2 linked regions of the Homo sapiens genome follow. The protein of the gene in region 1 purifies or fractionates together with the protein of each later gene. This does not show direct contact. Each region holds a gene or a part of one and is shown on either strand. Other genes may lie near its edges.

Evidence for each region. Proteins that work in one complex are often made in the same cells at the same time.
Region 2: the proteins of FBXO8 (region 1) and NFX1 purify together in Homo sapiens (affinity purification with mass spectrometry, with the first as the bait; one large-scale study listed by BioGRID). This does not show direct contact.

What each region holds. Positions count from the first base shown.
Region 1 is NC_000004.12:174,236,021-174,238,680, forward strand, and holds the end of FBXO8 (F-box only protein 8), read right to left. Parts: intron 1,580-2,660; coding exon 1,392-1,579; 3' UTR 638-1,391; downstream 1-637. UniProt on the Homo sapiens protein: May promote guanine-nucleotide exchange on an ARF. Promotes the activation of ARF through replacement of GDP with GTP.
Region 2 is NC_000009.12:33,296,987-33,300,636, forward strand, and holds part of NFX1 (transcriptional repressor NF-X1), read left to right. Parts: intron 1-3,650. UniProt on the Homo sapiens protein: Binds to the X-box motif of MHC class II genes and represses their expression. May play an important role in regulating the duration of an inflammatory response by limiting the period in which MHC class II molecules are induced by interferon-gamma.

The DNA of each region.
Region 1 (2,660 bases):
TTGGATATTTGCTTCAGAATCTTAGAAATTATTTACTATCAGTCTAAAAGTCCCTTAGACATTCAAAATTTGATTATCGTATGTCTTGTCCTTGAAAAATCTGTAGTACAACATTCCAGTTGTAATATTGACAACCACTTTTGACTAAGGGTCAGATCTGGAAGGAAGCCAGGATTCAATACCTCTAGTAAGGAGTTTTTACCTCCCTCAACTCCCTCCTCTAAACTAGTAGCTCAACCCATCACATACTATTTCATTCCTAAGGTTATGCTTTTTACTTGGAGGTCACTTTTAACTTACCATATAACTACACTGTTCTCTATCATTCTAATGCTGCATATTTTAACTATTAAATAATTGTTAATTAAGATATACTTCATATAGTTGCTCTCCATTCAGCAGATTTTTTCTTCTCAGTACCCAGTTATGTATTATCTGTGAGAGCAGGGCCCATGTCTAGTACCTCGCACAATGTTAACACATGTAAAGCCCTGGATAGACATTCACTGAACCAATGAGTAAAGAGTGTTTACTGTTCTTCACAATATGTCTTTCTCAATGGACTCTGAACGGGGATCATCAAGATTACAAAAATAGTAAAGTTTGCATAATCACACCACATATAAGCAAGCAAACATTTACCAGAGTTCTAATAATATTTTATTTTATTCCTATGAATGTAAATCATAAATTTTGATGTTTTAAAAATCCTAAATGGTTTAAAGGACTTACCGAGACTTGATTAACCCAGTTTTTAAAATAAAAAATCAAATTATAAATTTATATTATAAAAATAACTGCCAGTTTTGCATAGTAATATAGTAACAAATCAACACTCTTCAAAGTTTAAAGGAAAAGGAAGCTGGTATTGGTTTCTGTCTGAAGTCAGATCTAACTTTTACGAAGACAATAGTTTCAGATCAGAATCAAATAAATTTCAGAACTCAGTTTGAGAGAAAAGGAAAAACTTTAGTTAAAATCTTTACAATAAAATAATTATGACTATAAATCTCTTTAGTTAAATATGTACACATTACATGGTATTTGTATAAAGAATGGAAATGGATAAAGTTTTTCAGGCAAATCTAATGCACAAATACACCATCTTTTAGAGTATAATGTCAGTTTATCATTCGTTAACAGCTGTGTTAGACAGTGGCTCTGCTTTGTGCAAAACGTGATAAACAAAATTAGGAAAAATTCTGCAAAATTATTTAGTTCCCCAAGGAAATTACTAAAATAGAAAATGGCAAAAGAAAAAAAGGTTGCACACTGAAGCTTGATTGTATACTCAGGCTACAATGACCAGCACTGATGTAACCCCCATATCTGCTAAGTCCTTGGGTAGCTTTAGTCTGAAGTAAAAACTGAAGTCCTAGCAATTGTGCTTTTTATGCAGCCACATGGCCAATAAGGTAGATATTGTCATAAAGATGCCCTACAAAATCTTCACTAATATTTTGAGCAGCGCGACGGGTATTTCGAATAAATTCCCTTTTTGACATTTTATTCTTCACATGAGGGCTAGTGAGGTCAATGGAAAGTAGAATCAAAGAGTAGCACAGTACATAGACAGCATCTGGAAAGAAAAAGAAACAGTTCAAATTATTAGTTGGTTTACAAAATATGATTCCAATGGCATTATATAAGGCAAAAATGTTCATAATTTCAAGATATCAAGATTAGCTCATAAATACAGAGTGACCAATCCATCCCAGTTTGTCTAGACTCTTCCCAGTTTTGCACTGAAAGTCCTGTCATCCTGGGAAACTCAATCCTGAGCAAACCAGGATGGTTATCATCCTATCTTAATACTAACTAAGCATGCATTTCCTTCATTTCAAAAGAACTTTAGAACAGTTTAGGAGTGTATAGTAAAAATTCATTCTAGATTTAAAAAATTTAGAATTGGCTTTATTTTCGTCTTTGCTTTCAAATGTGATATTTCTATTCAAACATCCATAAAATACATTTGTATTTATCTCCTCTTTCTAAAAAAAAATTTATATAGAATGCTTTCATAAAAACCTATTTTAATTTGAGAGCATCTTTAATGACAAGAAAACATGAATCTGGTACTAGAAAATAAAATGTAAATAACTCAAAAGATTATTAATATTCTCATTTAAGATGTTATAAAGGCCTGTGGAACTTACATATTAATTTTGAAAGCAAATCTTTAGGGAAAAGACTGCTACACCTGAGCACCATGCAACAAGATTTTATATATGCCTAGGGTAATATTTGATGTTTAATATTAAAATAGTAACAATCGTCATAATAGTTCTACTACTATAGTGCTGATATTTCGGAATCCTGCAGTCTTAAGAAAGCCAAGTTGAACATTATGTCTTGTAAAGCATGCTCAACAAATTTCACACGACAGGAACAGTTTTGTAATTTCTGTTTAATCAGATAAGCACAATAAAATTTTTGATATGAAAAGATAAGCTATATGAATTGAAACAATATGTAGAAGATTCAGGCTATATCATAAGCATACAAACATACACATATAGATAGAAGTACACACAAACAGACATATATAACAACTTTATATATATACAAATGTCTATATGTCTATATGTGTATATAGACATAGACACAGTCTATGTGTATGTCTATATGTGTATATAGACATAGACATTTGTATACATATA
Region 2 (3,650 bases), on another chromosome or scaffold:
GTACTCAGTTCTGACCATTAAAAAGTTCATCCTTATATTGAACTGAAAGCTTCTTTCCTTTCCTTCCTATCCTTTGGTTCAAGTTTTATCCTCCGGAGCAGCATAGTAACTAGTCTGTCTTCTCACAGCTCCCCCTCTCCTTACTGCAAATCAGCTTTTTGCAGTATTCGAAGACATCTATCATTTTGCCCTAAGTGTATATTTCATCAAGCTGAATAGTTTTATTCTGCTAGCTCTTCCTCCTGGACCTTCACTATCTTAATCCCTCTCCAGTTTAATGTGAGATACAGCCCAACCCTTGAAGCCACCATCTACCCAGGGCCTGTTTTTACACCAGCCTATAGTTCTAGTTTCTTGCTTTATCAGGATTATTCTTGGAACCTCAATGTATATGTGAAGCAAAGCAATGTTATACCAGAGTTGTTACTGAATCCTTAAGGCTGGTTAATAATTACCTCTTGCTTTATAGTGAATTATCACAATGTAGTGGCTTATGATAACACACATTTACTATGCCACTGTTTCTGTGGGTCAGATGAATGGGTCCTGGTTAGCTGGGTTCTCTGCTCAGTGTCTCCAAATTTGGCTAGGCATGTGATCTCATCTGAGGCTCAGGGTTCTCTTTCAGTCACTGGTTGTTGGTAGGATTCAGTTCCTTACAGATGTAGGACTGAGGTTCCTGTTTTCTTGCTGGCTGTTGGCCAGGGGTGTCTCTCTCAGCTCCTAGAGGCCACCTGTGTTTCCCTGCCACATGACTCTGTACACAACATGATAGTTTGCTTCTTTGAGGCCTGCGGGAAAGCAGCTGCTGCCACTTCAGATCTCTCTGACTTCTGTTTGATTTTCAACTCTTTTAAAATGGCTTACTTGATTAAGTCAGGCCCACCCATACTCAAGGGGAGGAGATTATATAGGGTATGCATACCAGGGAGGTGGGAATCTGGAAGACCATCTTAGAATTCTATTTAACAAATCTCTTGGGGCCTTAACATTCTCACATTATTCATATCATTTTTGAGAACACTTCATTCATATTTGTTGCATAAATACTATATACCAAGCACTGTTCTAGGTACAGGGAATGCTGATGGAATTTACATTCTGGTAGGGAAGACAGGCAGAAAGCACTTAGATATTTAATATGTCAGGTGGTGATAAGGACTAAAAAGAAATATTAAGAAGGTTAAGAAGACAGAGTGACAAGAGTGCTATTTTACATAGGTTGACCTCTTTGATAAGGAGACATTTGAACAGAGACAAGAATGAAGTACAGAAATGCACCATGTGGCTAGCTTGAGAAAGAGCATTCTAGGCAGAGGGAGGAGCAAATTTAGATGTGGGGAGGGGTATTATAGGCAATGAAGATAGGGGCAGGAAAGGTGGTCAGAGAAATAGCAAGGGCTGGATCATGTGAGTCCCTTGGATTTGGTTCTGAGTAAGATGAGAGGCTGCTGGAAGGTCCTGGGAAGAGGGATGTCATGAACTTACATTCTAAAATAATCACTTAGGGTCTGGATGTGGTGGCTCACATCTGTAATCCCAGCACTTTGGAAGGCCAAGGCAGAAGGATTGCTTAAGCCCAGGAGTTCAAGACCTGCCTGGACAACTTAATGAGACCCCATCTCTGCAAAAGGCAAAAAAATAAAAATTAGCTGGACGTGGTGGCACATGCCTATAGTCCCAGCTACTCAAGAGGTTGAACTAGGAGGATCGCTTGAGCCCAGTGGGTCAAGGCTGCAGTAAGTAGTGGTTGTGCCACTGCACTCTAGCCTGGGTGACAGAATAAGAACCTGTCTCAAAAAAAAAAATATTATTAAGCTGCTGTGTGGAGAATAGGCTCTAAGAAGGCAACAGGACAAGTTAGGAGGCTATTGCAGTTGTTCAGGTAGGAGATGATGGAGACTTAGACTGGAGTAATAGTGTGGAAAAGGTAACAATTGGATAGATTTTGGATGTATTTGGAAGGAAGATTTTATGCCTGAGCAACTTAAAAGAATGGAATTGGCATTTACTGAAGTGTCAAAGCCTAGTAGAGAAAAAGGTGTTTGTCTGTAAAATGTTTCAGTTTGGAATAATTTCAGATTTATAGAAAAGTTGCAAAGATAGTTCAAAGAATTCCCATATATCTTTCACCCAACTTCCTCTAATGTTAACGTCTTACATAACCAGACTGCCTTTGTTAAAACTAAGAAATTAGCACTGGTATAATCATATTAACTAAACTACAGATGTTATTCAGATTTCACCAGTTTTTCTGCCAATGTCCTTTTTCTGTTTGAGGACCCAATCCAGGATACCACGTTGCATTTAGTCATGTCTCCTGAGTCTCCTACCATCTCTGACAGTTTCTTCATCTTTCCTTTTTGGAAAAGATGTTTCTGCTCTTGTTTTATTTACTTCTTATTCAGGGAAGATTTTTGTTTAATTTGGTTAAATTTCTGTAATCCCAGTACTTTGGGAAACCGAGTCAAGAGGATCACCTGAGCCCAGGAGTTCAAGACCATCCTGGGCAACAGAGGTAGACCCCATCTCTACAAAAACTAACAAAAAAATCAGCCAGGTATAGTGGCACACGCTTGTGGTCCCAGCTACTCAGGATGCTGAGGTGGGAGGATCGCTTGGGCCCAGGAGTTTGAAGATGCAGTGAGCCACGATCATGCCACTGCACTCGAGCCTAAACTTTGGTGACGCCTGTAACTTTCACAGAAAGAGGTTGTGGAACAGACTAAATATCACTCATTTATTCCTTTATCCATGAATTTAACAAATATTTAATGGAGCACCTAGTATATGCCAGACACTGGAAATACTACACTCAGCAAGGTAGACAAAACTCTCCCTTCTCCTGAGCTTTCAGTCTCAGGGTGTTCTCTATTTCTTTTGACATTAAACTGAACAATCAGAAAGTAAATCTTAGGAGAGCCAATATTATGGAATATTACAGTGTGCGCTTTTGAGTCAGATAGTTTGACAAGTTTGAATTTTGACTTTTAAATTTCTAGTTGTGTGACCTTGGATAAATGATCTAACTACATGAAGCCAGTTTCTTCATCTGTAAAATGGTACCTATGTTATAGCATTTTTTTTTTTTTTTTTTTTTTTTTTGAGACGGAGTCTCACTCTGGAGTGCAGTGGTGCAATCTCGGCTCACTGCAACCTCCGCCCCCGGGTTCAAGAGATTCTCCTGCCTCATCCTCCTTGGATTACTACTGGGATTACAGCCACACTCCACCACGCCCAGCTAATTTTTGTATTCTTAGTAGAGATGGGGTTTCACCATGTTGGCCAGGATGGTCTTGATCTCCCGACCTCATGATCTGCCCGCCTTGGCCTCCCAAAGTGCTGGTATTACAGGTGTAAGCCACCGTGTCCAACCTGTTACAGCCTTTTTGAGAGGACTAAATAATAATATGTAATGTGCTTGCAATGTTGTATTTAAGGTTAATTTTATTCTTTTAACTTATTTAGACCTGAAAGCAAATAACAATAATATTATGAAATAAATGCAGTGCTAAAAGTATGTACTCAAAAAAGCATATACACACACTCACACTCAGTTTTGAGAGTATCTGGCTGTATTGAAATCTAGAAAGACTTTGCTGCAATTGTGTTTGAGGAAAAAAATCTGGAAGTGGGTGAAGGTATTCAGG